Homo sapiens: one gene and its partner. The protein of the gene in region 2 purifies or fractionates together with the protein of the main gene of each other region. This does not show direct contact. Each region holds a gene or a part of one and is shown on either strand. Other genes may lie near its edges.

The links.
Region 1: the proteins of KDM5B (region 2) and CDX2 purify together in Homo sapiens (affinity purification with western blotting; 2 studies listed by BioGRID, with this or other methods). This does not show direct contact.

What each region holds. Positions count from the first base shown.
Region 1 is NC_000013.11:27,961,995-27,978,252, forward strand, and holds the start of CDX2 (homeobox protein CDX-2), read right to left. Parts: upstream 7,322-16,258; 5' UTR 7,013-7,321; coding exon 6,472-7,012; intron 6,300-6,471; exon of another isoform or gene 5,453-6,299; coding exon of another isoform or gene 5,263-5,452; intron 3,046-5,262; coding exon of another isoform or gene 3,022-3,045; coding exon 2,876-3,021; intron 1,376-2,875; coding exon 1,121-1,375; 3' UTR 1-1,120. Other genes in the region: URAD (putative 2-oxo-4-hydroxy-4-carboxy-5-ureidoimidazoline decarboxylase), read right to left, coding at 16,112-16,258.
Region 2 is NC_000001.11:202,801,610-202,817,363, reverse strand, and holds the start of KDM5B (lysine-specific demethylase 5B), read left to right. Parts: upstream 1-8,942; 5' UTR 8,943-9,058; coding exon 9,059-9,262; intron 9,263-9,354; exon of another isoform or gene 9,355-9,401; intron 9,402-10,064; exon of another isoform or gene 10,065-10,387; intron 10,388-15,754. Other genes in the region: uncharacterized protein LOC124904583, read left to right, coding at 5,805-6,329. UniProt on the Homo sapiens protein: Histone demethylase that demethylates 'Lys-4' of histone H3, thereby playing a central role in histone code. Does not demethylate histone H3 'Lys-9' or H3 'Lys-27'. Demethylates trimethylated, dimethylated and monomethylated H3 'Lys-4'.

The DNA of each region.
Region 1 (16,258 bases), on a different chromosome or scaffold from region 2:
TCTGGGGTAAAATGAGGCTGTCCAGATAATCTCCACTCCCTCTCTGAATTTTCCAAATCAGCTTGCAAGCAGAGAAGATATTTCATTTCTTTAAAAAATAAAAAATAGTTGCAGACAAAATCTGAAGATAAATACAGAATCTGAAATCTGGAAAGCTCATTTATCTCTTTTTCTTTTTAGAAAAAATTCAACTGTGTTCAAATACTCCCCACTTCCCTTCACCATATCACTTCTCCCCCCATGGATCCAGAAGGCTTTAAAAACTCTGGCTTGGATGTTACACAGACCAACAACCCAAACAGCAGCAACAACAACACAAACTCCCCCCACCCCCTTCTTCATCAGCCCCAAGATTGTGAAAATGACAGGAAGTCCAGGTTGGCTCTGGCATTTATAGCACTGACATACATTCAGCCCAGAGAAGCTCTGGTGACAGGCTCTCTAAACAAGTCCCTGTTCGGGCCCCCTGGTCAGGCCTGGAGTCCAATAACCACCCCCTCATACCACACCCTGTGCATACACCAGCCAAGCCTTTCCTGGTCTGGGAAGGGAAGAGAAAAAAGACGCAGGCCACCTGGGGGTTCTGCAGTCTTTGGTCAGTCCAGCTTTCTATCTTAGCTGCCTTTGGCTTCCGCAGTGTAAACCTTGCCTGCCCGGAGGCAGGAGGCCCAGCTGGACCTCCGAGGGCCATGAGCAGGCAGCAGCCATCTTGGCCTCAAGCTTGCCTTTCCCTTGAGTCCCTCTCTCCCCTCGGCTCTAGCCAGAGGTGCAGCCTGCAGATCTAGGAAGAGAAGAGCTGGGGAGGAGGATGAAGGCCTGGTTGGTGTGGTCAGTCCAGGCAATGCTTCTGCCAGTCCGGAATGAAGCCCAGCGGAGGCTTTCTGTCTCCTCAGTGGCAGAAAAAGCCAGATGGGAAAAAGTAAAAATCTGGGAGAGTATATTTCTTGAGGCCCCAAATCCCACTTGTCTTACTCCTGGCTCCCATTTTTCCTCTGAGAGCCAGGTCTGTAGGTCTATGGCTGTGGGTGGGAGGGGAGGGGTCTCTCCTGAGGAGTCTAGCAGAGTCCACGCTCCTCATGGCTCAGCCTGGAATTGCTCTGCCGCTGCAGAACCCGGTGGGTCACTGGGTGACGGTGGGGTTTAGCACCCCCCCAGTTGGCCCCAGAACCCCAGGGACAGAGCCAGGCACTGAGGCTTGCAGGGAAGACACCGGACTCAAGGGCTCTGGGACACTTCTCAGAGGACCTGGCTGAGGCTGGGGAGGCTGTGGTGGCGGCGGAGGCGGCTGTGGTGGCTGCTGCTGCTGTTGCTGCTGCAACTTCTTCTTGTTGATTTTCCTCTCCTTTGCTCTGCGGTTCTGAAACCAGATTTTAACCTAGAAATGGAAAGGTGGAGAAAAGCACATTGTGGTGAAGATGTGAGGGAAAAGAGGAACAGTACCCAGCAGTATCATCAACATCTTCTGCTCCAGCTACAGAACTCCAAGTCCTTCTAGAAGCTTTCCTCGGGCATCCCCATAACAGCCCAACCCTGGATCCATTCTTAGGCCCAATTCAGCCTCATGGGGAAGAGTCTTCCTCCTTCCTTGCTCCCTGAGTTTCTTTTCAAAGCAACTTTTATCTACGTATTTACTGCAAAAGTTTAAAGTCTCAGAACCAAGGAAAACTGAAACTGCAAGGCCCTTTCTACACAGCAAAGGGAGGCCAGTGCTGGGTGGTATACTTCAAATGGCAACCTTTGGCCCCTCAAGGCTAAACTAAAACGTAATTTTCCTCACCTTAGAGCTGAAAATGAGATTTAATTTTGTGGCTTCCTGGCTGTGAAGTTGGCCTGTTTTTCTAGACTATATATATAAAATGTTCATGAACCAAGTCTTGTCCCTCTAGTTTTTGTGAGAGACTGAGTACTTTATTCAGTTTATTTTCTTAGGTACAGTGCTGGAAACAAAGAGAATAGGTCTTTAATATGTCTTTATAGACCCAAATGGAATTCTGGATTAAACTAATACCCTTGGCTGTTTTTCACACTTCTTATATCCCTCAAAAGAGAGAGACAGAAAAAATCAACAACATCAAAAAAAGAGGACTAAAGGTAGAAGGAGGCTTTTTAAAAAAGTACTCCAGGGCCAGGCACAGTGGCTCACACCTGTAATCTCAGCACTTTGGGAGGCCGAGGCGGGTGGATCACCTGAGGCCAGGAGTTCGAGACTAGCCTGACTAACATGGAGAAACCGCATTTCTACTAAAAATACAAAATTAGCCGGGCGTGGTGGCACATGCCTGTAGTCCCAGCTATTTGGGAGGCTGAAGCAGGAGAATCGCTTGAACCCGGGAGGCAGAGGTTGCAGTGAGCTGAGACCGCGCCATTGCACTTCAGCCTGCACAACAAGAGTGAAACTGCGTTTCGACGGTGGCGGGTGGGGGGGCATGTACTCCAGGCCAGGCATGGTGGTTCACACCGGTAATCTCAGCACTTTAGGAGTCCAAGACAGGAGGAGCATTTGGAGTTTGAGACCAACCTGGGTAAGACAGTGAGACCATCTCTGCAAAAAATTTAAACATTAGCCAGTCATGGTGGCTCGAGCCTGTAGTCCAAGCTACTCAGGTGACTGAGGCAGGAGGATCCCTTCAGCTCAGGAAGTCAGGGCTGCAGTGAGCTATGATTGTGCCACTACACTCCAGCCTGGGCCACAAAGCAAGACCCCATCTCTGTTTAAAAAAAAAAAAAAAAAAAAAAAGGACTCCAAAGACGAATGCTTGCATCCTCCTGCTTCAGTCTCTCCACAGATTTAGATGGCCCCTGCAGCCAGATTTTCTAACTCTCATGGTCCTCTGCCAGGCAGTGGCCCGCCCGGAGGGAGCTAGGCGGTCCCCACCTGCCTCTCAGAGAGCCCCAGCGTGGCGGCTAGCTCGGCTTTCCTCCGGATGGTGATGTAGCGACTGTAGTGAAACTCCTTCTCCAGCTCCAGCCGCTGGTGGTCCGTGTACACCACTCGATATTTGTCTTTCGTCCTGGTTTTCACTGTGGAGGAAGGAGAAGTGAGGGCTGAGAACTGCAAGGCAGCCCATCAGTCATGGGTAATGACAAACCTCCCTAACCCAGGGACATTTCTCTTCCTCCACCACCCTGGGGGGCCCGGGTTTGGCTGGTTCCTGCCAAGTCTGACAAGACCCCCCAGAGGGTCCTGTGGGGGGAGGGTATGAGGCTAGTGGAGGCAACTAAACTAACCTTGGTATTAAGTGGTTTTTAAAAATTAAGGAAAGTGAAAACCTCATTCACACAGAAGACAGCAGAATGTAACCACCCTTTCGGTAAACCAAATACAGTACTGGCATATATTTGACACCAAGGGAAAGGGGGCAGGGTGAAGTGGCCGGGATCCTGGAAGCATCCAGATTTCCAGGCCTACCAGAGATGGAAGCCCACCCCGAAAACAGCTGTCATTGTGGGCACATGTTGTAGAGGGGGTGTGGGGGTTACTACTTTGCTTTACTACAAGTGGAAAGCGGGGCTCAGGAGCTGACAAGTCGCCAGAATCATCCCCCAGACACACCAGGCCCATCAGGTGGAATTCTGAGCTGGGCTCTGGCCGAGGGAACAGGCAGAAAACCCCTCCTGCTGGGGACACTTTATACCTGCCCAGACCAGGTTTGGCGTTTGGTACTTTTTCTTTTTTGATCCTCCATTTATTCCTGCTGCAAATCCGGCCAGAGTTATCCTGACCAGTGATCTATGCTCATTGGATTGAGTCAACATATTAAATCCCAGATTGATTGTTTTACTGAAGGGCCTTGACAAATAGTGTCCACAATGTTGGAGCAGGCCCGAGCCTGGCGTCTCCACCAGGTCTGTCTTGGCTCAGCCCTTGGCAGAGCCCTGGCCAGAAGCTGTTCTCTCTGGCTCCGTCCCACTTTTGGGTCTTCTTGCAGCTGAACAGGTTCAATCGCCCAGTGCCCAATCCCACAGAAAGATCTGAAGGGCCTGGGAGTTGCCTGGAGGTGTTTAATGCCCCGCAGGCTGACTTTGTTCAGGTAAAACCCTTTGCAAACCACAACAAAAGCGTCCTGGGAAGATACAGGCCTGATCAGAGGGAGCTCCCCCGAGCCGCTGAAAGGCCAACACAGCCGCAAACAATGCAGGACAAGGCGATCTTATCAAAGAAAAGCCCTTTCAATGCCTTAATAACAACCACATTCTGTTTGAATTACCACTACTGAGCAAATGGCGGCCCCGGCTTTCATCCCCCTCCCCGCCAGGCGCATTAACATAAACACGACCCTGCAGGCGCATTTGAATGGGGCTGCGGCCCCGACCCCGCGCCTGCTATGAAAGTAAAGGGAACTAACGCGACTTTCTCCGCGGTGGACGCTCGGACACGCGTGACCGCCTCAAACCCACTCCAGGCTGCCATTGGTACTCGCCCCTTTTTACAGATGAGGAAATGGAGAATCAGACCGGGTCACGCAGATAGTATCAGGCGGGGTTGGCACCGGAGCCTGGCTGGAGCCACAGAGGACACCTCCGGAGCTGAGGCGCAGGGCAGTTCCCTCAGCCGAACACCCCGGGAGGGAGACTCGCCTGGAAGTGTCTCGGAGCGACCCTTGCTCGGGTGCTGCCCCTTCAGTGTCCCGGACGTGCCGGGCAACGCGATGACCAGACCCTGAGCGCTCTTCGACCCATGCCCCAAGGGCCTTGGAGGCGCCCCACACCCCCTGGGAACCTAGGAGCGGGGCTATGGAGGGGAGGGATGAGAGGGACTTGTCAGAATTCATTATTGACTGCGAAAGTCACCACCCTCTTTCCGGGCCCTAAAAGAGACAATGGCAGGGCTGGGAAGGTGTATATCAAAGCAAGCCAGGCCGCGTCCCCCCCTCCACCCCCACACCTTGACAGATGACGCTCCGCAGAGGAGCCCGGCTCCGGCCCGCGGGCTGCGGCCACCCCACATTAACATCACAAGGGCACCCGGCGCCGACTGCGGCCTTGCCACCTCGGCGCAGGACTTCACAGCGGCCTCTCATCTGCTGACCCCGCGGCCTGGGCTCTGGCGGCTTCCCTCCCGCCCCCTTCCCGGCCCTCACCCCGCGGCCGCTCTCCCGGGACACGCAAAGGTCTTCCTTAGGGCGTGCGCCACCCCCGCCAACCGCGCCCCAGACAGGGGCTGTAGAAAGTGGGTCTTTGGGAGCCAGGATCTGGGAGCCCCTGCTAGGAGAAAGGCGCCTCCTCTAGGAGAAGGGACCAAGCCAAAGCTCTGAGGCTCACCCGAGGCTGATCTGTGGCCTTCTCCCCGGTCGGCGGCATTCCCACCAGGACTCTCCCTAGCATGTGCACAGTGACGCAGAAACCGATGCCCAGAGACAGCCCCCAAAGGGCGCTTTGATTTATACAGTTGTAATTGGCTATAAACTTCTGCAAAGTGCCCATAACCAGCGTGCCTGCCCAATTGGGGCATCAAGGAGCGAAGCAAGAAAAGCGGAAGCGCTGAGGGCTGGGGAAAGACTTTAAAAGGGGCACTCAACTAGGACTCTCCCCACCGCACTTCCTTGCCACCTCTAGGCACACTCGAACACCAGAAGGGGCAGACCCAGAGTCAATGAGCCCCACAGTCCGGCAAACCTAGGATCTTTTTCAGTTGCACACACACACTCACAGACATCCCTGACACCCTTGAAAGGAAGCTTTGGGAGAAATGACCCCTACCTGGAGCGGCGGCTTAATTCCCACCAGGGTTTCCTCCCCGTCTCCCTGCTCTCTCCGCAGACGCCTGCCCCTAGGCTTCTTGCCCCTAGCCTTCCAGCTTTTGCTTGAAATGACCCCTTCACAGGTCAGAGGTTCAGAGACGGGGCGCGCCCCCGTCGCCTTAGCAGCTGGGGCTAGCACCTTCTTCCCAGCGACAGCAGCTCTCCCTGGTCTGCCTGCTCGCTGTACCTTGAATTGGCCCGAGTGGCCAAACCCGGTCCCACACACAGCCTAGCCATCCTCCGACCCCCCCAGGTCACTTCTCTTCTTAGATGGCTCAGATGGGGAAAGAGAGAGCGGAGATAAATGGCCTAGACCTAGCCCAAGAAGGTTCGAGCCTCCCTCTCTCCTCGGCGGCCAGGAGCCACGCAAGGAATGCATGCCGCAGCAAGTGCCGGAGGACGCGATTCTGCCGGCGTCCAGCAGTGCTCACGCCGACATTCCCCGGAGCTTCCCGAAGGTGTCCCGGGGTTGCGAATGAGGAGCTCTTGGAAAGAGGACGCCTGAACACGGTGTTGAGACTCAGAATATTCACTCCCAGGCTCAGTAGGTCAGAGAAGCCCCGACGGGCCAGAGGCCCCCGAATTTGTCTCCGGGCCGTGCCCCTCCTGGCGCCGAGCTCCCAGACAGCCCGGGACGCCCCTGTGCGCACTGGACGCGCGACGCGCAGCAGCCACTGGCTCGACCCGCGCCTTCCCAAGCACCCTCCGAAGGGGCGCAGCCTCTGCTTACCTTGGCTGCCGAGGGACTGCTGCGCCGGCTTCCGCATCCACTCGCACAGGTTCCGCCGCTGGCCGCCGGGAGACAGCTGCTCGGCGGCAGCGGTGGCGGCGGGCCCAGGAGGGCCGGGGTTGAGCGTTTGCAGCAGCCCAGAAGCGCAGGAAGGCGCGGCGGCCGGGTGGTGCGGGTGGTGATGCGGGTGGTGGTGCGGATGGTAGTCTGCGGGGCTGCTGTAGCCCATGGCTGCGGCCGGGGAGCCACCGTTGAGGCCGTGAGCCACGGCGTTGGCGGCGGCCGCGGCGCCTCCGGGCGCGTAGCCATTCCAGTCCTCCCGGAGTGGGGCGCCATACGCTGCCGGCCAGGATGGCCCCGGGGACTGCGCGCTGTCCAAGTTCGCTGCCGCTGCAGCTGCGGCCGCCACGTGGTAACCGCCGTAGTCCGGGTACTGCGGGGGGCTGACGAAGTTCTGCGGCGCCAGGTTGAGGCCGCCAGAGTGGCGCACGGAGCTAGGGTACATGCTCACGTCCTTGTCCAGGAGGTAGCTCACGTACATGGTGGCGAGGGTCCGGGAGCAGACCTCACCATGCTGCCTGGGGACCGACGCTGGAGGCTGCCGGGGGGCACGAAGGGAAAGGGGCGAGGGGACTCGAGGAGCGGCGGGTGGCTGCGCCCCAGCCCGCGGTGCTCCGCTGGCTCCTCGCGGCTCTTCTGCCTCCGAGGCGGTCCCTCCCTCTGGCCTGCCTCCTCCCTCCCTCCCTTTCTTCCTTCTTTCCTCCCACCTCCTTCCCACTAGGCTGCAGAGGCGGGGAAGACCCGCCACAGGCTGGCGTGCGGAGCCCCAGGCCGGCGGCCTTCCGTGATTAACGAGTGTTTACAAGACTCTATTAGTAATGACACAGACACCAATGGTTGGAGACGTCGAGGCGCAGCGCGCACTCTACGCACAACCCCTCGAAACATAATTTGCATTTTAAAAGATAAAGGGGAGGGAGGCTCGTGAGAGGGCAGCGACCTGACACAGCTAAATATTCAAACCTTTATTGTTAAGAGCTTCCTCCTTCCAACCTGGTGCACTTTAACCTCCAATCACAGGTTCAAAGAATGAAATCAAGAGACTTACAAAAGAGAGGGGAAGAGAAAAGGCTATCTTGGTAGGAATCTGAGCTTGGAGACAGGAGCAGTGGTTGTTTATGCATTTGCAGGGAAGAGGGCGGTCAAGAAACTCCTTCTGTCCCAAAGAGAAAAGAAAAGAGAACCATTGCTTTGATGAGAACGTTTCTGACCAACCTGGTAGGTGACAAGCAGAGAGCCCTAAGAGATGGGCCATTCCTTCCCGCCCTGTGCTCCTGGCCCGGACGACTGCAGCCCCAAACAACTGTCACCTCCAGTTATTTTCTTGCCCAAGGAAATTACTCGCCCTCCGCACAAGACAAATTATGATCCTAGATTCAGGCTGCATCTCTGACTTCATCTTACATTTGAAATTTGAGTTAAATTCAAGCGATTTATTGTTAAACGTTTACATTCAAGAATCAGAAGTTTTAAACTACAGAAGTAATGGGCATGTGGTAGAAGTTAGGCTAGTGGTTATTGGCGTGCATAACTGGAGGCGAGCTAGGGGATCGTTGGTAAAGCAGTTTCTTAGGCTGCTGGTTACACAGAATGTCAGTTTGTGAAAATTCATTGAGCTACACTTGTATGTTTATTATACTTAAATATAAGGAAAAGAGAATTTCTGCTAATGCTTACCTAGGTATTTATGTGTCTTACATCATACCTGTATCTTTAAAACTCTCTGTCCTTTACAAAGGGAAACGTTCTCCGAAGAAATTTATTTCTCATTTCCAGGAGATGATAAGGCAACTCAGGGCCATTATTAACGACTGCTAATGAAAAGCTCTGAGTTGAGAAAGGATCTCTCTTGGTTTGGGAAGCGCTGCGGCCAAGGGGCCTAGGGCTGGAAGTGGCCGTCTTGGGGACCGAAGCCGCGCAGCCCGGGATCGGGAGCTGCCCCGACAGGAGCGCGGAGGCGGCGAGATTCGGCCCCCGCGCGCGCCCAGCTCGGTTTCAGCAACCGCGTGGAGTGGGCCTGCGGCCGCCGTTCACCTCCTAATACAAGCCTTTGACAGCGCTGCCAGATTCGGGAATGAGGATCACTGCGGCGAGGCCCGGCGGGCTGGGCAGCCTGACTCGGCGGCTTTGAGCGCTCTCAGAACCCGCGGGCGCTCGCGGCACTCCTGGAGACCTGCACTTGTCTGTTCTCATTGTCAAGCGTTTCGCTCGGATATTTGTCACCATCGCCTTCATCCTGTCATTTCTAGGGTGCTCTCCAGTGTCCTTTATCTCCCTTGAGCCTCACATCCCCCTAGGATCTAGAACAAAATCTGGGAGGTGTTTTTATCCTCCCCATTTTACAGGTGACAACCAGCAACTTGCCTCTGCAGACACCTGAAAGCGATCAGAACTAGCCTAGGGCTGCGGGATCCCCTGTTTTCTGGTTCCTCCCACCCTTCGTGTTTGTAAGGAAGAAGGCTGGAAATGGGGGTGGTGGGGTACTCAGGGGCCAAGGAGCTGTGCACTCAAGAGGTGGGAGACCGAGCTGGTCCTCCTGGGGGACTTCCAGCGCCTGGCCTGGACAGCCGAGTGTCATCGGACTTCCTGAGAAATACAACCGGAAGCAAATTGCAAACCCCGTTACAAAATCCGAATCATTGAGAGAAGGGCAGTAGGGGAGGTCCGCAGACCTGATGGGGTGGGAATGTGGGAGGTTAAGTGGTGGGCACTTCGAACTTTTGATCTAGCAAACATCTTCCTCCTCTTCCTGGAGACACAATTCCCCTTTCCATCCCCCATACCATCCCCGCTCCCAGGCCTGAGCTCTGGAAGCCGAGGCTGAGGCTCCAGCCTATGTCTTCGGAATGCGGGCATTCTTTGGAACAATCGCTTTATTAGGGACAGCCATTCCCTCCGCCCTGCGGTGGCCGCTTCCTGCTTTTTTATGGCCCAGGCTGCCGGCCGCTGGCTAATTGTCCCTGTTTTCCAGCTGTGTCTCTGTGCTGTGCCCTGAAGACGTGGCTCTGGCCTGCTCATCCAACTGCTTTGGGAGTGGCCAGGGCTGCTCTGGCCCCTCAGGTCAAGCCAGGCCTCAGAGCAGGCCAAGCCACAGGGAAGCCCGAGGCTCACTTGGAGTGCTCCAGCCATGGAAAGGAAATCATTGTGAACACGAATGTTTCCCTCATTGCAAAAAATGGGTCTCCTTAGCAATGGCATGGCACAGCTGTGGTCCCAGGGTCTAGACCTGTTCGGTGAGGGGAAAGGAGCTGGTAAATGATGTCCTCGGACAAGCTTCTTAGAATGTAAGCGTCCCCATACATCCTGGTTGCTCTCAGCCAGGAGAGGGCCCAGCTGGGTCCCTGAAAAGGCAGGGTTGTGGGAGCAGTCAGAGAGGGGTAGAAGGTGGCTGACAGAACTCTAGGAGCCTGGTTGTCTTGGCATTTAGACAGCCCTGGCCCCTAGCAGGTTGGTGCCCCATGACTGGCCTCTGGAGATTCGCTCTGCTCAGGGGCAGCCTCTCCAGCTTCTAAGTGCAGGCCTGTGTCCCTGGGAGGAGGCAGAAGCCACCCACATCAAGGCCCCATGCAGGGCTTTCTTAGTCCTAGGCCCCAGGTGCTTGGCGTCTTTCTTAGGAGCCTTTTGGCCTGCACTGAGAAGCCCCCAGGAAGGGACAGGGATGGTCATCCCTAACCCTCGATGCCAGAAGGGCCCTTCTACCCTGTAAGTCCTGCTGCTGGGCCAGAGAAGCCTGTAGCAACTCACTCTGGGAGAGGCAAACTTGTTTGGGAAGCTTGGGCCTGCGGTTGGCCTAGGGCTGAAACTGCAACCCCACAGAGCCAGAGCTAGAGCTGACATCTAAGGGCAGCAAAGGGTGGGGAAAAAAAGAGACCCTGGTAAATGAAGCAACAGTAAAACTGCAGGAGTGGCCACGATCAGGTTATCAAAAGGATGCCTCTGTTACTGACAGAGTAGAGGCCATTCCACATTCTTCAGAGAGGGTCCAGGCATGCAGGATCCTGGCTGGTGGCAAGGGCAGGGGCCACAAAGGGGGTGGGAAGCAGGAGGCTGTTGGAAGGGCGGGCTGCCCCTCCAAGCAGATGAAAAACTCCTGAAATCCAGACATCACTGACACAGCTCCCTCCCTGTTCAAAGGTCCTAATATTTGCTCTGACTAAGGGGACCATGCTCTGCCCGATATTTGTGGCTCCTGGAAACTGGGGAGCCCATTGGCTAACATAACCCAGTTAGGGCAGGCCATCTCTATCCACCTTAGTATGTAGGTTGACTTTCTGAATCTTTTTTAGATCAAGAAAATTGTCCAGCCAGGCACAGGGGCTCACACCTGTAATCCCAGCACTTTAGGAGGCTGAGGCAGGAGGATCACCTGAGCCCAGGATAGCAAGACCCTATCTCTACAAAAAAAATTGAAAAATTAGCTGGGTGTGGTGATATGCACCTATAGCCTCAGCTTCTTGGGAGGCTGAGGTTGGAGGATGGCTTGAACCCAGGAGTTCGAGGTTACAGTGAGTTATGGTTGTGCCACTGCACTGTAGCCTGGGTGACAGAGGGAGACCCTGTCTCTAAAAATTTTTTTAATTTGAAAAAAGGAAAATAAAACTATCCAAATAATATAGTCCTTCTATACCTTGCACAGGAAACTCTTACCTTGCATTGACCTGAATTCCAGGGATAATTAAGGAGGAGTGAAAAGGAAGAGAATGTCAGCTTTCAAAATTATTCAGCTTGGCCATCTATACTGATGTGGAAAAACAGCTCAATCTCTACTTAATTTGGAGTTTAGGGAGTCTTTCAGCCATTGCACTCAATCAGCCATCTACTCACACAAAGAAAGGCTCAATAATGGTTGGTTTGACCCCAACAACCCTGCCTTGCCCTGCCACAGCCCACTCAGCTAACATCTCTGGGAAGGAAATCAATGACATCGTCCTTTCTGTAGGGCCTCCGGAGAGTCCGCCACCTGTCCAGCCCCATCAGGCCACAGTGGATCCCAACATGTCCATCCTGAACAGCAGGGAGGGGCCGCAGCTGCCTACAGCCGCCCAGGCTTCATTCACAGAAGCAGATGTCTCCTTGCCCAGTGGAGTGAAGCATATTTTCTTCCCAAGCAAACTGGGTGTCTGACCCTCTCTACCTGAGGAAAGGTTTCTGAATTAATTGGGAGGTCATTGTGGGCTAACATGTTACCACTCAGGGACCAGGCTGCAGGATAATGGGATAAGAAAAGCCAGCTGTTTTACTCTTGTTGTGAAGAGACCACCAAGATTTCTGATCCAAGGCAGGGAACAACTTTTTTTTTTTTTTTATGCTTCTCTATCCAAAATATATTCTCACATCCAAGAGATCAAGGAAAATTAAGAGCCTCAGGAGAAAGGGTAATATTTGGGTACAGAAATCTGGTTTGGTACATTGGGTAAAAGTTAGGCAAATAAATAGTCGTTGCCCATTTTCTTCCTTTCTTCTGAAACTAGGGCCTGTGGACACTGGGCATTGTATAACACATTCTTTGTGGTGGGTGAGGACAGAGGATGATTTAAATCCACAAGAGGGAGTGACTTGGAGGTCTCAAAGATTGGTGTCCCTACTGGGAACCAGAACTTCCACCCCAAAGGAAACCTCTTGATGCTAGGAGCCCAGGCTCCCCGGGCAGCACCAGCCAACTGTTACCACGTGGCTTTGGCGTGGAGAACTTTCAATGAACATTTGTTCCCTCACCATTGTCTCGTGCCTGGAATGACCTTTGTTTGCCACATGAAAATATGTTCCTAGGAAGTCCTACAGGGTAAGTTTCATGTGGCTAAGGGAAGGAGCTTAAATAAAGGTTCTGCTCCTCTTGAGTTACTGTCCCATTGGCTAGCTACATTCCCTGGAGGGGAGTCAGGGGTCTTAAAGTCTGTGTAACCTTTCCATTTTACAAAGGTGAACCCAAGGCTCAGAGAGGTTAGGTGATTTTCCCCAAGTTGCACAGCTAGCTGTTCAAGTCCCTTAAAGTAAATGAGCTACAGTATGTGCATTCTTTGCAACCCATAGCGATCTGTATAGATGTTTATTATTACTACAGCTGCTGGTGCCACCCTGGCAACATGGCACCCCAAACACAAAACCAACTAGCACGATTAGAGAATCCCATTTTCCCACTCCCACCCCCTGCACCAAATAGCACCAGAACAATCAGGTTCTGCTATTGCTACAATTCTGACCATGCTCCAGGTCCTATGTCTTTCACAGGCACCCCATAACTGTGGTTTATTCATTTATTGCATGAATTTTCCATAAATTCCATCCCAGATTTTTCTCCAGTTGACAAAGATGGTATCCATCTACTTTTGTCTCACAGTAAATACTTTCTTAGAATAACTCCTCTTGGGCCGGGCGCCGTGGCCCACGCCTGTAGTCCCAGCACTTTGGGAGGCTGAGGCGGGTGGATCACGAGGTCAGGAGTTCGAGACCAGCCTGGCCAACATGGTGAAACCCCGTCTCTACCAAAAATACAAAATTAGCTGGGAGTGGAAGCGCGCGCCTGTAATCCCAGCTACTTGGGAGGCTGAGGCAGGAGAATCGCTTGAACCCGGGAGGCGGAGTTTGCAGTGAGCCGAGATCACGCCATTGCACTCTAGCCTGGGCGACAGGGTGACACTCCGTTTCAAAAAAAAAAAAAAATCAGTCAGAACTGATATCCTGTGGCTAATCTCTAGAAATGTGTCATATTTAAAATGGGTAAAGATCATGTATAGAATTTATGTTGCCCTTTTCCCTTTCTTTCCTTCCAATTTTAGTGTCTGTAGACATCTTTTGGGCACACAGACCAAAATGCCTACCTTTCTGGGTTAATAAAGAGGAGGCCCCATTCCGTATCCCAGTTAAGTTACACAGGTGAGTGACAAGCCCGGGTCGGCTCCTGAGTTCTCATCCGGAGCTGCGCTCTCCCGTCTCTTTACTGGGAGCGTTCTCCTGCCGGGGCTTGGACATTTCCAAGGGAAGTGAAAATCCACAAAGCTGCCCCCACTTCGTAAGGGCCTGTGCCTGGAGGGTCGTCGGGTTACAGAAATTGAAATCAGCTCTTTGCCTTCCAACTCTTCTTGGCCTTGCCACCGCGATTGGTTTTGTTTTCTTTGTTTTTAACGAATTGGTAAGTAAAATATTAGTTGTTCACCCTGAAATCTGCCCTAACCACTTCCGTACCCCCTGAAGCTCGCTGGGCGCGCCCTGGGCTGTCCTTCCCTGAGCAGCCGGGCCTAGAGTCAAGGCGCGATGATTGCCGCGCAAGCTAGGGTCCACGCGGCCGGGGCTCCTCTCCCGCCTCGGGCGCACCAGAGGCCAGAAAGCGGAAAGCGGCTCTGCCAGGCCAAGGCCGACAGAAACCGAGAGCATGTCGCTATTTGCCGGAGAGAACTGCCCTGCCAGGCTGCCACAGGTGACTTGCCCGCGCGAGCCACGGCCTCTGCGCAGAGCTCCTCCCGAAGGGGAGAGTCAGAGCCACCCGCGGGTTTGGTCGGGGCTCTTCCCAGCCCGGCGTCCACGCCCCGCGTCCTGCGCTCGCCCTTGCGGCTGCTTATGCTCAGGTGTTTCGGAAGAGGCGCCGCGCAGCCAGCTCTCTGTCCCTTCAGCTCCAGCTCCTTCTAAAGGGACAGACTCAGCGTCTGCCCCCATCTGCACCCCTTCCCGCAGGAATAAAATCATTTTCCGGACAAGCTTGGAACTGTTGAAATGTAACTATGTAATTGGAGACACCGGGGTCGTGTCTGGGAGATTCTGAGCTCATCTACACTCTTGCTAAACTGCGGGGAACCCAGCCCTGGTGGGATCTGTGCATCTCACATGAGCTTTTTTACATAAAGAGCACAGACGCTGCATTTGGGGCCTGGTTTATCTAAGCGTGGGGTTTACCCCCAGGCTTGGGACTGGGTGCCCCGAACACAGTGGATTATTCTGAGTCTTAGGCCCAGCCTTGGTATTTGGGTCCTGGGTCAGAAAATCCTCTTTACCAAGCAGCAAGTTATTGTGTGTGTCAGGAAATCCCCCAGGTTACCCTGGCTAGAGAGAGGCAGGTGTCTGGCCCAGGCCCAGCACCCCACCATTGTTGCAGGGTCCCAAAGAACAGGAGCGAGCCACGGAACTTTCTTCATGGTGTGCACTCGGCGCTCCTACACCCAGAGAAGGTGTCTGGCCACAAGCCTAGGGACGCTGGTAGCACAGCCCGCTTTCCTAACACCTGCCCCACTACCAGCTTCTATTTCCTTCAGCCTTACCACAGCAGGAAACACTGTGAGATGGGAACGGGAAAAGGGCTTCCTTGCCTAAAATTCCTAGTGCTTCAGGAATGATTTATTTCTATGGAACATCAGCCCCAGAACCAAGGGTGCAGCCACGCAGCTCTTTATGGAAAGGTTTCCTTGCTGCTGTTGCTGCTGCTGCTGCTAACCCTGGACACAGTTGGTGACTAATAGAAGCTCTTGTCTTCAAAAGGGCCACCTCTGGCCTTCGCCTATTACCTTGTCTTTGTTGGGGAGACCATGGGTGTTTCATTTCTCCTCTGCCAATAGAAGCCTAAGTAGTATTTGTTGGGGCTCTTTACACCTTCCCTGTGTTGGGGGGGGCGGGGGGGTGTCGACGGGTGGTAGAATGTGGTGGGCTCCTCCGCAGGATGCTAATGTACTTTCCCCCAGTGGACAGTCTGGCTGCTGGTACAGGAAGCTGCCCAGCCTAATAGGGGTCTGAAACTCCAGGGCTGACAAGCAAAGATTTCTATGGGCACTTCCCTCCATTTAATCGACACTGCAATCTCGCTTCATTCTGGGGTCCAAATACCCAGCGCTGCTCAATGTTACTATTTTAATAACTGATGGGTTTCCCGGGGCAGTCGAGCCACCCCCCCAAAGCCGACCTCCGGGAGAGATCTTTAGCTGGACGCCTCCCGCCTTTTAGGAGCGATGGCTGCAACTATTCCGTCCGTCCCCACGGGGCGCCTTCCCAACCCTTCGGTTGGCTCTTCCCTTCGCAGGGCTCTTCCCGGCCCACCGCCTCCTTCCTGCGGCTTCCCCGGCTCCCCAGGCCGGACCGAGGCCAGCGTTTGACTTTCCTGGCTCCCAGTCTGCTCCCCTAGTGCCCAAGAGCGAGAACACCGCTTCCGCTCACATGTAAAGGTCGGGCGCAGCAAATGAAGTGGGAAAAGAGAAAAACAGACAAACCGCTGTGGCATAAAAGATTCCTTTTCCGTCCGTTTTGCTTTGCAGTTCGGGCTTAGCAGGAGAGGGTTGGGGAGAACTGGATAAACGCTTTGGAATCCACAAAGGCCGGTGGTGTCGGGGGCCGCAAAGGGAGTGAAGAATTGAAGCAGTGAGCTGGATAAATCCGGGGCAAAGCACTAAACAATATGGATATTTTGGCAACGCGTGCGCGTGTGGGTGGGCGGACAAAAGGACTCATTACTCGTATGATTGCCTCAATTCTCCACTTCCTTTGTGCACGTGTGTGGACGCTGTTCCAGGCCCGAGTCCGCCTCCCGCCCAGGACGCACAGCTCCGGGCCGTGGCCCCCGCGCGTCCGGTTGTGCGTCCCGGGTCCCTGGCCCGCGCGGCAGCTACAGCTTGGCGGGGTCTGCGCGGAGGAGGTCGGCCAGGCGCAGGCTGCCGATCTTCTTCACCTCGCCCAGAGCAGTGCGCAGCTCCTGCGCGGACGGGCAGAGCAGCCGGCGCGCCAGCTCGCGCGGCACCGCCGTCCGGTCGCT
Region 2 (15,754 bases):
AGCCTCCCAGTAGTTTTATCATGTATTCTGTTTTTCTCATCATTTATTTCATTGTTTTGTTTTGTTTTTGAGACAGAGCCTCACTCTGTTGCCCAGGCTGGAGTGCAATGGCACGATCTTGGCTCACTGCAACCTCTGCCTCCAGGGTTCAAGAGATTCTCCTGCCCCAGCCTTCTGAGTAGCTGGGATTACAGGCATGCGCCACCACACCTGGCTAATTTGTGTATTTTTAGTAGAGACAGGGTTTTGCCATGTTGGCTGGGCTGGTCTCGAACTCCTGACCTCAAGTGATCCGCCCGCCTTGGCCTCCCAAAGTGCTGGAATTACAGGCGCGAACCACTGCGCTTGGCCTCTCAGCATTTATTTCTACCAGAAGCTAACTTACTTCTTTGTGTGTGTGTTTATTGTCTGTCTCCATCCACTAGATTAGAATATAAGCCCTTAAAGGGCAGGGACTTTGTTTGATTCAGTGCTGTATCCATAGCACTCTGCATAAAACCTGATCCAGAGAACATGCTAAACAAGTATTTATTAACTTGCCAATTATAGGGACTACATGATAATGGTGAATGGTCATCTTTCTTCAACAAACACTATGCTAGGTGCTAGGGGCACAGCGGTGTCAGTCAGGGGGACTGGGCAGTACTCCAGAGAAGGGCAGTATATGGGTGATGGTTAAGCGCTCAGATTCGGGACTCAGACAGCCAGAGCTGGAATCTGGTTCTGCAAGACTTATTGTCCATGTGACCTTGGCCAAATGACAGCCTCTCTGAACCCCAGTTCCTCATCTATAAAATGGAGATAAAAACGATGGCTACCCAGGACAGGGCTGGGCTAACAAAAAATAAATAAAAATAAAAATAAATGATGGCTACTTTCAAGAGTTCTTACGAGGATCAAAAGAGATCATCCTATATAAATAGTTATTATTTTTAAAAACAGAAAAAAGAGAGTATCCACATAAACATTCTTGGCTTATAGCAAGCACTCAATAAATGTTAGCTGTTTCTGTAAGGAATGATTACCATCTTCAACCATGGAGACCAGCACTGCTTGCTTTCCCATTATACCTGAGAGGTCCATCTTCCCTTATTCCTAAATCCTCATCCCAGTTTTTTTTCTTTTAGATTTTCACACAGATGCACAACACTCTGAGAACCTTTCTGTATCTTGCCATCTGATTCCCACTTTTCTAAGGGATTTAGAGGAGGCAAAAAATAGAGAAGGAGAAATAAATATTAAAAAGCCCTGACACCCCACCCAGGTTCCTCATCCACATTGCAGTTAGGGGTGGCCATCCATGACAGTGTGCCTGTTGCCAGTGTGTGTTCCAGGAGTGGGCTCTGCACTTTGCTGGAAGCCAGAGTTCTCCTTTAAGCCTAAGAGCATGAGCTAGACCCATAGGGTAGGGATGGGCCAGGAGCTCACCTCCATTCCAGCATTTATCTCTGGGTACCGTAGCTAATGCTCCCTTGGCAACCATTGTTTTTTCTGAAGGGCAAGAATCTCATCATCCCACTAGTCTCTTCTGGCAGGTGGAGAAGGGGCGTGGCCACAGGCATGTGTAATTGGCCCACACACTGTTTCTTAAAAATCTGATGAAAGATTGAACATTTAAGAATTGGAGGCTGGGTGCAGTGGCTCACGCCTGTAATCCCAGCACTTTGGGAGGCCGAGGTGGGTGGATCATGAGGTCAGGAGTTTGAGACCAGCCTGACCAATATGGTGAAACACTGTCTCTAATAAAAATATAAAAAATTAGCTGGGTGCGGTGGCACGTGCCTGTAGTCCCAGTTACTTGGGAGGCTGAGGCAGGAGAATAGCTTGAATCTGGGAGGCAGAGGTCGCAGTGAGCTGAGATCGTGTCACTGCACTCCAGCCAGGGGGGAAAAAAAAAAAGAATTAGGAGAGCTGAACAGGCGTGGCTCACGCCTGTAATCCCAGCACTTCGGGAGGCCGAGGTGGTCGGATCACTTGAGGCCAAGAGTTTGAGACCAGCCTGGTCGACATGGCAAAACCCTGTCTCTACTAAAAATGAAAAATTAGTCAGGCGTGGTAGCACATGCCTGTAATCCCATCTGCTTGGAAAGACAAGGCAGGAGAATTGTTTGAGCCCGGAAGGTGGAGTTTATAGTGAGATGAGATCATGCCACTGCAATCCAGTCTGGGTGACAGAAGGAGACTCTGTCTCAAACAAAAATCAAACAAACAAACAAAAACTGGGAGAGCTTTTATATAAAAGCCTAAATAACTGGCTTCTCTTGAAAAATGGAAACGTGGTGCAACCCTGGTCTGAGCAGTGATGGCCCCCAGTAGCTGGACTTGCATTCTCACCTCTCCACAGACTTCACTTTGTTCACCTCCCCCATGTACCTGTCTGGCTTCTACACAGGCATTTGAGTTTTTAACTCTTGCTTTCACTCAGGTCTTGAGAGGTTCGAAGACTCTATGCTATTTCTTGGTCTTAGATGTGGCACCTGTTTAGCATAGGGTGCTATAAAGATAAGGCACAAAGTGATCCCTGGGGTTGAAGGGCTGTGGGTAGAGATAGAAGGAAAATGTGGCTAGGCAGGGTGGCAGATTATACACCTGTAATCCCAGTACTTTGGGTGGCTGAGTCAGGCAGATCACCTGAGTCAGGCAGATCACCTGAGGTCAGGAGTTCAAGACCAGACTGGCCAACATGGTGAAACCCCATCTCTACTAAAAATACAAAAATTAGCCGGGCGTTTTGGCCTGTGCCTGTAGTCCCAGCTACTCGGGAGGCTGATGCAGGAGGATCTCTTGAACCCAAGAAGTAGAGGTTGCAGTGAGATCGCGCCACTGCACTCCAGCCTGGGTGACAGAGGGAGACTCTGTCTCAAAAATAAATAAATAAATAAATACAGACCAGTGAATAAAATAAATGGTGAAAAATAAATGGAAGAGAAAAGATATAATTATTGATTTTGTATATGATGTAGACGATATTCTGGGAAAATTCCATTGTTCATGGGGAATATAGAGGGAGTGACTGAAATTAAGATTATTGTTTTTTTTTAAATTATTTTATTTTATTTTTGAGACAGAGTCTCTCTCTGTCACCCAGGCTGGAGTGCAGTGGCGCAATCTCGGCTCACTGCGAGATTCGCCTCCCGGGTTCATGCCATTCTCCTGCCTCAGCCTCCGCAGCAGGTGGGACTACAGGCACTGGCCACCATGGCTGGCTAATTTTTTGTATTTTTAGTAGAGACGGGGTTTCACTGTGTGAGCCAGGATGGTCTCAATCTCCTGATCTTGTGATCTGCCTGCCTCGGCCTCCCAAAGTGCTGGGATTACAGGCATGAGCCACCGTGCCGGCCGATTATTGTTACTTTTTAGAGACAGGGTCTTGCTTTGTCACCCAGGCTGGAGTGCAGTGGCACAATCATAGCTCACTGCAGCCTCAAACTCCTGGGCTCAAGGGATCCTCCCACCTCAGCCTCCCAAGTAGCTAGAACCACAGGTGTGTGCCACCACACGTGGCTATTTTTTTTCTTTTGGAGACGGAGTCTTGCTCTGTCGCCCAGGTTGGAATGCAGTGGTGCGATCTCAGCTCACTGCAGCTCTGCCTCCTGGGTTCAAGCAATTCTCCTGCCTCAGCCTCCTGGGTAACTGGGACTACAGGCACACGCCACCACACCAGGCTAATTTTTGTATTTTTAGTAGAGACGGGGTTTCACCATGTTGGCCAGGATGGTCTTGATCTCCTGACCTCATGATCTGCCCGCCTTGGCCTCCCAAAATGTTGGGATTACAGGCATGAGCCACCGTGCCTGGCCATACAAAGGTAATATTGTTTTGTGAAACTTTTGTTGCTATTGCTATGTACAAAAAAATACTGGAGATAAGTCAAAGTTTGAAGCCACTGTAGTCTAGAGGGGAGAGAATGGTTCGATGTTGGCAGATTAAGGGGCAGCTGGTGGTGAGATCTGAGATGAAGCTTCTGTGTCCTCTTTCTTCAGCTTTAGAAGTCAGTTTGGTGTTTTGGGAAGATCAAAGTTAGGTACTAGGATGAACATTCTTTTCCTAGCTCTGCTATTACTGTCTGTGTGATTTTTGGCTAATTAACCTTTCTGAGTCTCAATTTCTCCATCTGAAAAATGGTAACACTAATACCACTCATTTCACAGGGCTGATGTTCTATGATTTGCTCCCGGCTAATGGCCTTGTCTTATTCATGTTATTACAGTATTTCTAGTGGTTCCCCTATCCCCGCTTCCTGCCAGGAAAGAGGAAAAAGGGAATTCACCTGTAGCATTTAGTGTGTCAGACGCTGTGCTGGGCACTCAGCATGATTTGGTTGAACATGGAATTCCAAATTCCCAGTTTCAACTGGGAATTTACAGTGGTGGTCTGTAAAGTGCTGACACAGTGTTGCAGCAGTTTTCATTCTATTGTTAAGACTTTCATCCAAGATGCAGGCAATTCCAAACATTCCAGCTATCCAAGGCCATTGAGCATGCTGCCAGGGGCCCCTCAGCCCAGAGACCCAAATTAGGGGTGCTGGTGGTGCCACTGCGGGATGAACAGGGAACATGAGTTTCCCTCTAATCCTCACAGCTTCTCTAAGCAGCTCACAGGATTGCTCCTTGGGAGTCCAGGGCTTCTCAAGTTGCCCAACTGGAATGGGAAGAAACACGCCCTGAAGCCCTGGTGTGGCTAACTTTGCCCCTCCCAATCCCCGTGGGCAGGGCTGGCAGCACCGTGGGAATGTTCCACTTGTCAGCGCCTGACCCCCACAAGGGTCTAGCCCTTTGAGCCCCACACCCAGGTAAACCAAAGCCCAGGACTGAGGGTGCAGTTACCCTGGATCTCAGTTGGGCTGAGTCATCAGAGAGGGATTCCAGGACAGGAGAGGAAGAGCAGATGGGAGGAGGAAGAGGTATTTATTAGTTACCAGGTGGCTCCCAGGACCCAGACCCAGCTTCCCAAGAACAGAAACCCAGAAATGAGCGCCTGGTCAAGGTGTAAGCTGTTCCCCAAGGGCAGCCCCGACAGCTGGGGCTAAAGCAGAACAGTGAGCACAGAAGTCCACCATAAGGGACCAGCTCAGCAGTAGACGATAGCATAGGAGGGGTTGCTGGTTCCCGGGAATTAAGCAGGGCAGGGAATGGGGGAGGATGGGTTTATCTCACCTGTGGTGCCCACCCATTGTGGAGGCTCCCTCAACACCGTTCTGAGCCTCCTTCCTGCTTCATGTGGTCAACCAGATTCTTCTTTGTCCAGCCCAAAGCTCCATCCTCAGCCAATGGTAGCCACAGAAACTCAAGGCCATTTACCCTCCCTTTCAACAAATATTTGTGGAGCGTGTGCCACGTGCCTGGTGCCAAGGAGAGAGACATTACTTCTTCCCTCTAGAGGCTTACAATCTGGCAGGAGAGGAATATGTATGGGGAGAGTGCAGGGACACCGCGGAAAAAAGACAAATACTGAGTTATAAGTGTTGTAATAGGGGGTAGTAACAAGACGTTGTAGGACTACACAAAATAAAACAAGGAGGCCAAATCGCAAGCGTTTGTGGGTTTCACAGGGGACATCTGACAGCAAACATTCCAGGGCACCGAGAGATGGTGAGGAGAGATGATGGCATTGAATTGGAGAGATGAGCTGAGATGGACTGCGCAGAGGACGAGGGAAAGCCGGTGCACTGGAGACTGGGGGAGACGAGAGGATCCACCGGGTTGGGAGGGGAAGGGTGGTGGTAGAAGCACGAGCAAGGCAGAGACCGGAGGCCAGGGCGGAAGGGAGGCTCACGGACACCTGGAGCCCTGAAAAGTTGTCAGAGGCGGCGAGGGGGTGGGGAGCGGACCCTACACGTGCGCTACGTGCTGCGCCGGCCGCTGGGGAGCCCGGTCTGCCCCCCTCATCCCAGAACCCGGTCCCAGGGCAGTTGCACGGCGCCCAGGGGGAGGGGAGGGAGGAAGTCCCCCCAAGTTTGCAACCCGGCAGCGTGGTCTTCGCAACGCGGTTACCGGAAGGAACGCGAGGAGCGCCTCATCACCAGGCGGGTGTATCTAGGGGCGAAGGCTGCAGATCTGGGGCGCAGGCTGGAAAGTGGGGTGCAGCCGGTTGACGTGAGGTCTGGGAGTTGGATGGACCGAATGAGGATGGAGACACCTAGGGATGTGTCCGAAGGATCTGGCGCTGCACAAATGAGGGCGGTTTGGGGGACGGAGGCCCGGGCGGGGGCGGAGTGTTGTCCAAGAGTAAGGAGGGGGTTCCTGGAGACGTGGCACTCGGAGCGGGGCTGGGTTCCGCTCCGGCCGCCTGGGCTGCAGCTCCGCTATGGCCTAGGAACCCGAACCTGACCCCGCCTAGGCCTCGCACCCAGCCCTCTGGGAGCTCCGGCCCCGGCACCTCCAGGCTGGGGTTGCCCAGGTCCGGCCTCTGGGGCGTCCAGCCGGCCCTAGACGAGACAATGCGGCCCGGGCCCCGCCCCCGGAGGATGACGCGCCCGGCTGCCGGCCAGTCAGCGCCCGTGGCTAGGCTCTTTAAAAAAAGAAGGGCCGGCGCGGTGTGGCTGTCAGCTGGGAGGGATCCCTCCGCCCATGTAAACATCATAAAGGGCAAGGGGAGCGTCTGTTGTGGGCGGGGGAGCGGCTGCCTTCCCGGAGAGTCCTCTCGGTCCCTAGGTTCCCCTCAAGACGCCGGCAACCGCCCCGTCCCTTAACGTCACACCGGGTCTGCTGGGAGCCAAACAGCTGCGGCCTGATCTGGGAGCGATAGAATCTCATCACTTAGGGTCACTACCGGAAATGGAGGAAGCCGGACTGGGAGACCTTGAGAGTTGGGAGCGAGAGGGAATCGTAGGACGCAGCTGAGAATTGGGAAAGATTTTCTTAGGCTTGTTCTTCCTGTCCATCTCAGTTAAATAATAATCATAACTCATGTAAGTCTAGAATTTGTCTCAAAGTTATGCCTACCTGGCTCGTAGGATGCCAACGTTAGGAGTGAAAATAGTCAACGCTCTCCCGAGAGAGCACATGACACTACATGAGCTTCATCAAGACCCTCGGAGGCCCAGAATGCGCACCAAAGAGCCATCGACGATAATTCTTCTACCCAACTTTTATTTAGTATTATTAAATATTCAGTAAAGTTAAAAGAAATTTGCATCAAATTCCTCTATACCCACTACCTAGATTCTATTATAACTTGCCACATCGCATATCTATCTTGCACTGATAATTCTTTTAATAGTGTATTAGCTGTCCCCTGGGCTTGACTCTCCATTGCAGTAGGGAGCAGGAAAAGACTCCAGGTCCCAAAGCCCTGGAGAGCTAAGAAAAGGAATACGTTCTCCCAGGACCACTGTGAACTCTTTCCTGGGCCCGGTACCTCTGGGAAAAATTTGTTGAAGGGAAGGCGGTTTTCTTCTCCCCCCACGCCCATCCCCCCTTTTAATTGAAGACTTCTTAAGCATAAGAGATTTCCTTCCACTAGGTGAATCTGAAAGCGAACTAAGATCTTGACAAACATTCCTTGCATACGTTTGGCAGCTTTCTGGATGAAAGAGGTCATTTCAATGTTGACGTTCTACTTTTTGAGCTTCCTCCTTTTTTCTGAGGCTGCTGGACACTACCCCCCCACCCCCGTCCCCCGTCTCCCGCCAAAAGAAAAAAGGCGCCTCAAAAGTGTTCGTATCTCTTAAAGTTCGTTAACCTCTTTGCCTCCGTTGCCTGCTCTGCAAAATGAGGATAATATCGTACCTACTCAATATGGTGGTTGTGAAGACTCAGTGAGCTAATACATGCAGAGCGTTTAGAGCAGTGCTTTACACACAGTAGCATTAAATAGCGGCTATCACCCATAAGCACATAACTCCCAGATTTATATCTCCAATTCTGATCTCGCCCCTTCAGATTTATACCCTTCAGTCTGTTGAAGGATACCCCGTTGTGTATTTCTACCTGTATGTACCAGAGACACCTCAAATTCAAAATGTCCAGAAATGAACACAGTATCTTCTTCCCTTGAGTAACTCGCCTTCTGTATATAATTGGGGTGAATGTTCCAGCAATGCCAACGGGCTAGCATCTACTCAGGCAGGTACGCCAGACATCTGAATCTTAATACCTCGTCGTCCCCCCTCAATCTGTCACTATGTCCTAATTTTATTTCCTACCTTTGCATCCCTTCCTCATAATTATCAGCACCACTGCCTTAATTTAGATCCTATCATTCCTTGTCTGGATTATTTCAAGTCTTTCGCCCCTCTCAAGTCTGACCTCGTCATAGACTGTTTGTGGATGATTATTTTCCCTGCAACATCTCCACCTCCCAATAGTCTCCATCACTTATTAGCCATGTGAATTATGGCAAATTGCTTAACCTACCTATGCCTCACTTTCCTTATTGTAAAGTGGAAATAAGAGTACCTATCTCATAGGGTTGTGTGATTAATCATGCGATGCAATTAGAACAGTGCCTAGGATATGAAAGTGCCCCAAAATGTTACGTTATTATTATTATTACTACTATTGCCTTCTCATGAACATGCTATGTGTATGTTCAAGCTGTTATCTCTACTGGAAAATCCTTCTCCGTTTCCAATACTCTTTCCAAAACCCCCTCCTGGGTTTTACTGCACCTACCATTGTGTACTGACGTGATTGAATGATTGGCTTATGGGACTGATCCTTTCTACCAGACTTAACTTCTTCAGGGCAGGAACTCTGATACATAGTAAATGGTCAATAAAAGTTGGCTCAACTGAAACCCTAAGGATAAACTCCATCCACAGCGGAAGGCGCGGCCCCGCCCGATTCGGGGGCGGGGCGGGGAGCCGCGCGCGGAGGGTGGGTCGATGGGGGTGGGGTGGGACTCTTTTTCCTCGCCGTGGCGGCGGAGGCGCACGGCGTGGGCTTGCGGCGAGACGTCGTCGTCGGAGGCTGAAAAAGCCCAAGGTGCTGCCGTTGCCCGTACAACTCGGACTTGCTGTTGCTCGAGCCGCGTCTGCACGGGTCTCGGACCGAGCGGAGCTCGCAGCCTCGGTCCCGGAGCCCACCTTCGCCTCGCCCTTGCCCAGCCTGCGGTGATGGAGGCGGCCACCACACTGCACCCAGGCCCGCGCCCGGCGCTGCCCCTCGGGGGCCCGGGCCCGCTGGGCGAGTTCCTGCCTCCACCCGAGTGCCCGGTCTTCGAACCCAGCTGGGAAGAGTTCGCGGACCCCTTCGCTTTCATCCACAAGATCCGGCCCATAGCCGAGCAGACTGGCATCTGTAAGGTGCGGCCGCCGCCGGTGAGTCACGCCAGCACCCCGGATCCAGCTCGTGGCTGGGGGAGGGAGCGGGGACGCGCGGGTCCGGGGAGGCCCGAGGCGCGGGGGGCGGGGAGCCGGTCGCCCCGCCGGCCTCGTCAAGTTTGGGGCTGCCTAGAAGGTCGGAGTTGAGGCCGGGGGAGGAAGACGGGGGCTTCTCCAGGGTGGGAGATGAGGAGCGTGGGAGAACCGGGGGCTTCGGCGGTGCCATGGGAGGGCCGGGTCGCCGCGGGGCTCGGGCGGCCGGGTGCGGAGGTTCGGGTTCGGTTCCGGATGGAGTGATGGCAGGAGCCGGGGGTGGTCGCGGGGGAGTTTCCTCACGGAGCCTGGCGGAGGCGCGGGCTGGAGGGAGGACTGTGGGCCCGGCGAGGCTCGGCAGGCTGGTCCTCGCCTCCGCTCCCGGGGTGCGGGGGTGTGTGATGGGGTGGGGTGGGGGTGGGGGACTTGCGAGTTGTCGTGCGAGGAGGAAAGTTTTCAATATGGCGGCGGGAGCCCCTGGTCCTTTGTGTGGTGGCGGCGTCGGCCCGGAGCGGCCCTCACCTGGGCGCCCCACCCTCCAGACCAGGGCACCCCTCCACCGCCTGGTCCCCGGGCCTCCAGGTGTCCCCCGGGCCGGGGTCAAGAAGGGGGCGGCCAGCGCTGGCTGGGGGCGGGGAGGAGCCGCGGGTCCAGCCCCGGAGCGGATGTTTGTGGGGGGCGTTAGTGTCTGGGGGACACTTTTGGGGCGGCGGGGGCAGGACGGGCGGCGGTGGGCCCCGATGCCCGCCCGCGCTCCCGAACGCGCACACTCCCGGCTTCTTCTGGCTCAGCCGCTCGGCTCCCCGGGGAGGCCTGGGCTGTGCTGGTGGGGATGGGGTCCGGGCGAGGCCGTGTTTGTAGGGGAACGTCAGACGGAGAGACCTCCGAAGATTTCGTGCTCGTTTCCCCCGGCCCTCAGGCTCCGGGCACTGAAAGGCAGTCACCCACCGCAGCCCTTCCAGCCCTGTCTACAGCGCCTCGGGCCTGGGGGCAGTGAGTGAGGGGTGGGTGTTGCTGAAACCATCCGTAACGGCTCCAACGTTCGCTGAGGAGAGCCCGGCCAACTCCTTCCTCCGTGGCCGGAACTGGGTGCGCTCCTACACCCCTGTTTTTTTTGCCCACCTTTCGGGAGGGTCTGAGTCCGAGTTGGCCTAAGCGGCGGTTGGACGGGCTGGGACCGTTGGGAAGCGGGTTTAACTGCCTTTCCTGCTGTTTAAGAATCTTCTCCCCACTCTCTTCCCCCACCCCCACTTCTAAGTAGAGGAAGACCCCTTCCCACCCCTTTCTCCCTTAAGCTTGCTTTTTGTAATGACATTTTGAGTTGTAGGGATTCTGTTTGTAATCGTTATGTTTTGGAAAGCTGTTTTCAGGGAGATCCCTGAAAATAAGGCTTCTTAACCCTTCCCTGCCCCAAATTAAAACACGGACACCTACTTTAGTTTTTCTTAAGCAAGTTTGAAAATGGAGATGAAATACATGCTTCAGAAAATAACTGGCCAGCGAATATGAGGGAAATGTTTGAAAATAGATCCATTTCTTACAGCGAAGTGGGCAAGGTTGATTCTTGCTGCTTAAGGGAAGTACGTTTCTCTTAGTGCAAAGAGGCCTGCAGAAGTTATAACAGGGCTGGTTAGAGCCAAGGTTTTAATTCTTGAATAATAGGTCATGTTTCACACTGTAGTAATGTAGCTTCATGTCACATGCTAGGAAGGGTGAATATGAATATTGCACATTTGCATAATGGGATTTTATTCAGAAATTGGGTAACTTGACTAAGTTCTTAGTAACCAAAACGTGGGGAGTCAGGTTCCTGGGAGGTGTCCTCCATGTTGGTATTGTGGTATACCAGGGCTGGGGTAAATCCTTTATCTTGTTTTCTTGTTCTTTGCCTTTTAGAGGGCCCTTTTTCTGAAAAGATAGTGTTGCTCTGGTTAGGCTTGGCTACCCATTTCCTCATCTTGGCTAGAATATTAATGGTAATCTTTGCAAAATGTGTGATCGAATTGCCTTTTTCTCACTCTGAATGTCAGACAGACATGATGGCCACCATTTTGTATTGAGAGTGCTACATAGTACAGCCTGAGGAAAGGGGTTAAAGAGGCACCAATAATCTACAAATACAACCAGTACTCTGTTTGGAGACCTCCTTTGTGTGGAGGGGACTTGCTTCCTCCTTTGTTTAACAAACTCCTTTGCCAAATGGAAAGAGTTTGAGAGTATTTGTTGTTGATATAACCACAAAAAGGGAAATCTTTCCAGAAGTTGTAGCTCTTGAAGAGGGGTCTTGTTGGAACAAAGGCTTCTTAAGAGATGTAAACAGTCTTTGTTTTAGAAACTGTTTTGTTTTTGGGAAAGCTAACTGTGAACAAGTGGTTTCATATAGTTGATATATAGCAACAAAAAAACCCTTCAAGAAGTGTGAAATATTTTCCATGGTGATATATATAATGTCTGTATTTCTGGATGATTTTTGTTCACCGAGTTTTTGGAACACAAATGGTTATATTAGAAGGGGAATTGGAACTATTGGTATTTTACTTGTTAGAAGGTAAGGAGAAGTATAAAACATTTCTGTCTCCTTTTGTTCTTACCTTTGTATCTTTACCAATGGTACTTAATATAGTTTCAGTTTATAGCTGCTTTCTCAGTGAGACTCCCAAACTGCTTGGCTTCTGAAAACTTAGAGTACTTACATTATTTTGTATATGGCAGCTTAGGGGTTCTCAGAAATTTGAAAATATAGTAAGATAAATGTGAGAAAACGTGATTAAGTCAAGAAGACTATACTTCAAATCTGAGTTTGAAGTTTAATACAAACCTTTGTTTCAAATTATATCAACTATGTAGGATAACCAGGCTTGTTTTCTGGACCAAAACCTTCTTAAATTTACAATTCATCTGGCTTCTGGTTTTGTCACCTTTAAAATGCAAATTTTTAATTTCCTCCATGATACTGTACTTAGATGTCTGTTTAAGGACAAATGATATTTTTCCATATCACTTTGTGGTATTTGGAGATGAGTAATTTTAAGGGTGTAACTATTAGGCAGAAAAATAGTTGGCTGCTCAGTAAATACTTTTTTGTCTCCCAAATTTTGATAGGAATATATTTATGGCTTTAGTAACTTATTTTCTTGCTTTCAAATGTCTCACATTTGGCCATAGATAGATTCCACAAATTTCTTTTTTTTTTTTTTTTTGAGACGGAATTTTGCTCTTGTTGCCCAGGCCTGGAGTGCAGTGGCTCATCACAACCTCTGCCTCCCGACCTCAGGTGATCCATGCGCCTCGGCCTCCCAAAGTGCTGGGATTACAGGCGTGAGCCACCGTGCCGGGCCTAGATTCCACAGATTTCTTCTTTGTGTCCGGAGAAGGTTTAAATCAAACCCCAGAGGCCACAAGAGACAAAAATTTTTCAGCTTTAACTTCTTGTGGTTACTAGTTTGATTCCTTCATCTTTATAGCCAAGTGTAAAACTGCCCTTAAATGTTTTAATACAGTCACCATTTTTGAGTGAGCCTGTTGGTTCCACTCCTAGAGAAGAGGGAGGAACTTATACACTTCTTTGTATGGTAGAAGTGTTAATGATATGGAGCTCATTTACTCCCTTTCCAGCGTATCATTCTCCCTAATTTGGGGTTTGATCGACTTAGGCCTAACCCTCTCTCTGTTTTCCCTATTTCTTTGGTGTCATGAAATCTTTCCCTACTTGTATCTTTGGCCACTTTAAGCCTTTAACGTTTAGAGAAGAGGCTTATCAGTAGAAACATCCTTGAGCAAAGGAAGAACTTATAACTACTTAAAAAAAAAACCCTTTTATTGAAATATACCATACAATTCACGAATTTATGATGTGTAATTCAGTGGTTTTTGATATTTTCAGAGTTGTACAACCATCACCACAATCAATTGTAGAACATTTTCATCTCCCTCAAAAGAAACCCTGAACTCACTTGTAACTACTTTTTTTTTCCTTTTTTTAAATTATACTTTAAGTTCTAGGGTACATGTGTACAACGTGCAGGTTTGTTACATATGTACACATGTGCCATGTTGGTGTGCTGCACCCATTAACTCATCATTTACATTAGGTATATCTCCTAATGCTTTCCCTCCCCCCTCCCCCGACCCCTAACTACCTTTTAAGACAAATTTAGGACTATAATGCCCAGGAGAAAAACCTGGTAGGAGGTTGGATTAAGTCCTACAGTTCTAGGCCACAAATGTCTACCTTTTTTTTTTGAGATGGAGTTTTGCTGTTGTTGCCCAGGCTGGAGTGCCATGGCGCAACGTCATGTTGCTCACTGCAACATCCGCCTCCCGGGTTCAAGCGATTCTCCTGCCTCAGCCTCCTGAGTAGCTGGGTGGGCATGCACCGCCACGCCCGGCTAACTTTGTATTTTTAGTAGAGACGAGGTTTCACCATGTTGGTTAGGCTGGTCTTGAACTCCTGACCTCAGGTGATCCACCCACCTCGGCCTCCCAAAGTGCTGGGATTACAGACGTGAGCCACCGCACCTAGGCCACAAATGTCTACCTTAAAGCTAAAACAAACTTCATTTGTTGTAGTTATTGAATGGGTGTTTAGCTAAATTTGACTTTGCCAGTGGTAAATTGGGCACATTAGTAGCCACAAACATATCTACCCAGTTGTAATTCTTAGTGAACTAATAAACAAAACGTGTAGACTTTAAGAATGTAATGTGAATGATATTGCAAATATGAGTCAGCTAAAGATTTGAGTCCCCACCCCCACTGGAAAAATTTCCTTCCCTTCCTATGGTTATAGGGTATGGTTTTAAACATGCAATCTAAACTTTTAAAAGAGCGAAATGAGTAGAGAATTACCTTTGAAAAACATTAATAAACATTCTCTATTAAAAGCCAGGGCCTGAAATTTCCTTTTTTTTTTAATCTCACTCTGTCATCCAGGCTGGCATGCAGTGTTGCAATCAAGGCTCCCTGCAGCTTCCACTTCTTGGGCTCAAGTGCTCCTCCCTCCTCAGCCTCTAATAAATTGTAGGGATGCGGTTTCTCAGTATGTTGCCCAGGCTGGTCTTGAACTCCTGGCTTCAAGCAGTTCTCCCGCTTTGGCCTCCCAAAGTGCTGGGATTACAGGCATGGGCCAGTGCACCTGGCCTGAATTATTTTGTTGAGACACTGATAAGAAAAATTAAGAGAAAATTATTAAACCTTAATTTTATTCTTTCTCTGTTTCTAGGGTAATTTTCTTTATGACCTGTTGGCCTAGACTTAGAGTATTAGAGTATTTCAGGTTGATAGATTAGTGAAAAATGTGTTTACTGGTTTACATTTATAAGTGGGTAGAAATCTGCCAGTGGGGGAATTTTCTCTTGGGTAAAAAAATACAGGGCTGGGCATAGTGGCTCGTGCCTGTAATCCCAGCACTTTTGGGAGGCCTAAGTGGGCGGATCGCTTGAGGTCAGGAGTTCAAGACCAGCCTGGCCAACATAGCGAAACCCTGTCTCTACTAAAAATATAAAAATTAGCTGGGCATGGTGGCAGGCGCCTGCAATCCCAGCTACTCGGGAGGCTGAGGCAGGAGAATTGCTTGAACCCAGGAGGCAGAGGTTGCAGTGAGCCGAGATCACTCCATTGCACTCTAGCCTGGGCAACAGGCTCAAAAAAGAAAACAAACACAACAACAACAACAACAAACAACAACAACAAAAAAACAGTGTAAACTATTTGATTAAAAAAAATGAACCCTGTTTAAATGCTGTAATGGGACCTTTTTGTAGACTTTTGTAACCTTTCATTGTTGCCTTAATTGGACCCCATTAAGGTTGGCTGTAGAAAAGGATAAGGGAAAGCCCGTGCCCCTAAAATGAAAGTGCTAATTAGGTTTCTGGTGTTCAGGGTTTTTTGAAGCCTATGCGTGTACTTCTTTCCAAATGCCATCTATAGGTTTGAAAAACTACTAACCTAGGAGTACCTTGCTTTCATCCTTGGACAGTCCTCTCAGTGTTGAGATTGTTGTGCAATTTTTTTTTCTCTAAGAGAATTTGGTATTTTCTAATATACCTGTTATAGTACAGATCATTGGCAGCCTCAAAAAAAAAAAAAGATGGAATGAAGGTTGGGAACTGGAGGGCTACACATTCTCAAATTTAAGTTTGGGTCTCTTGAAGGGGACTCACCAGAGGGCGTACCGACAAGTCTCTTTGGGGTGAGTGGGTGGGTGAGTTGATACCTTGGGAAAGCCATATTCTTAGGCTGCTGCCATTGACTTTTGATTATTTAAAGTTTGAGATACTAATAACTGGATTTATAAAATCCAGATTGTGAGAAACTTGTTTTAGACATAAGAATGGTATGCAATTGAGAAGTATTTCTTAAGTATTTATTAACTGCTGTGTCCTTGCATGGGATTAAAGAGGAAAAATTAATATGAAAATTAAATGAAAATTGTAAATAAAAATTAAATGAAAAATT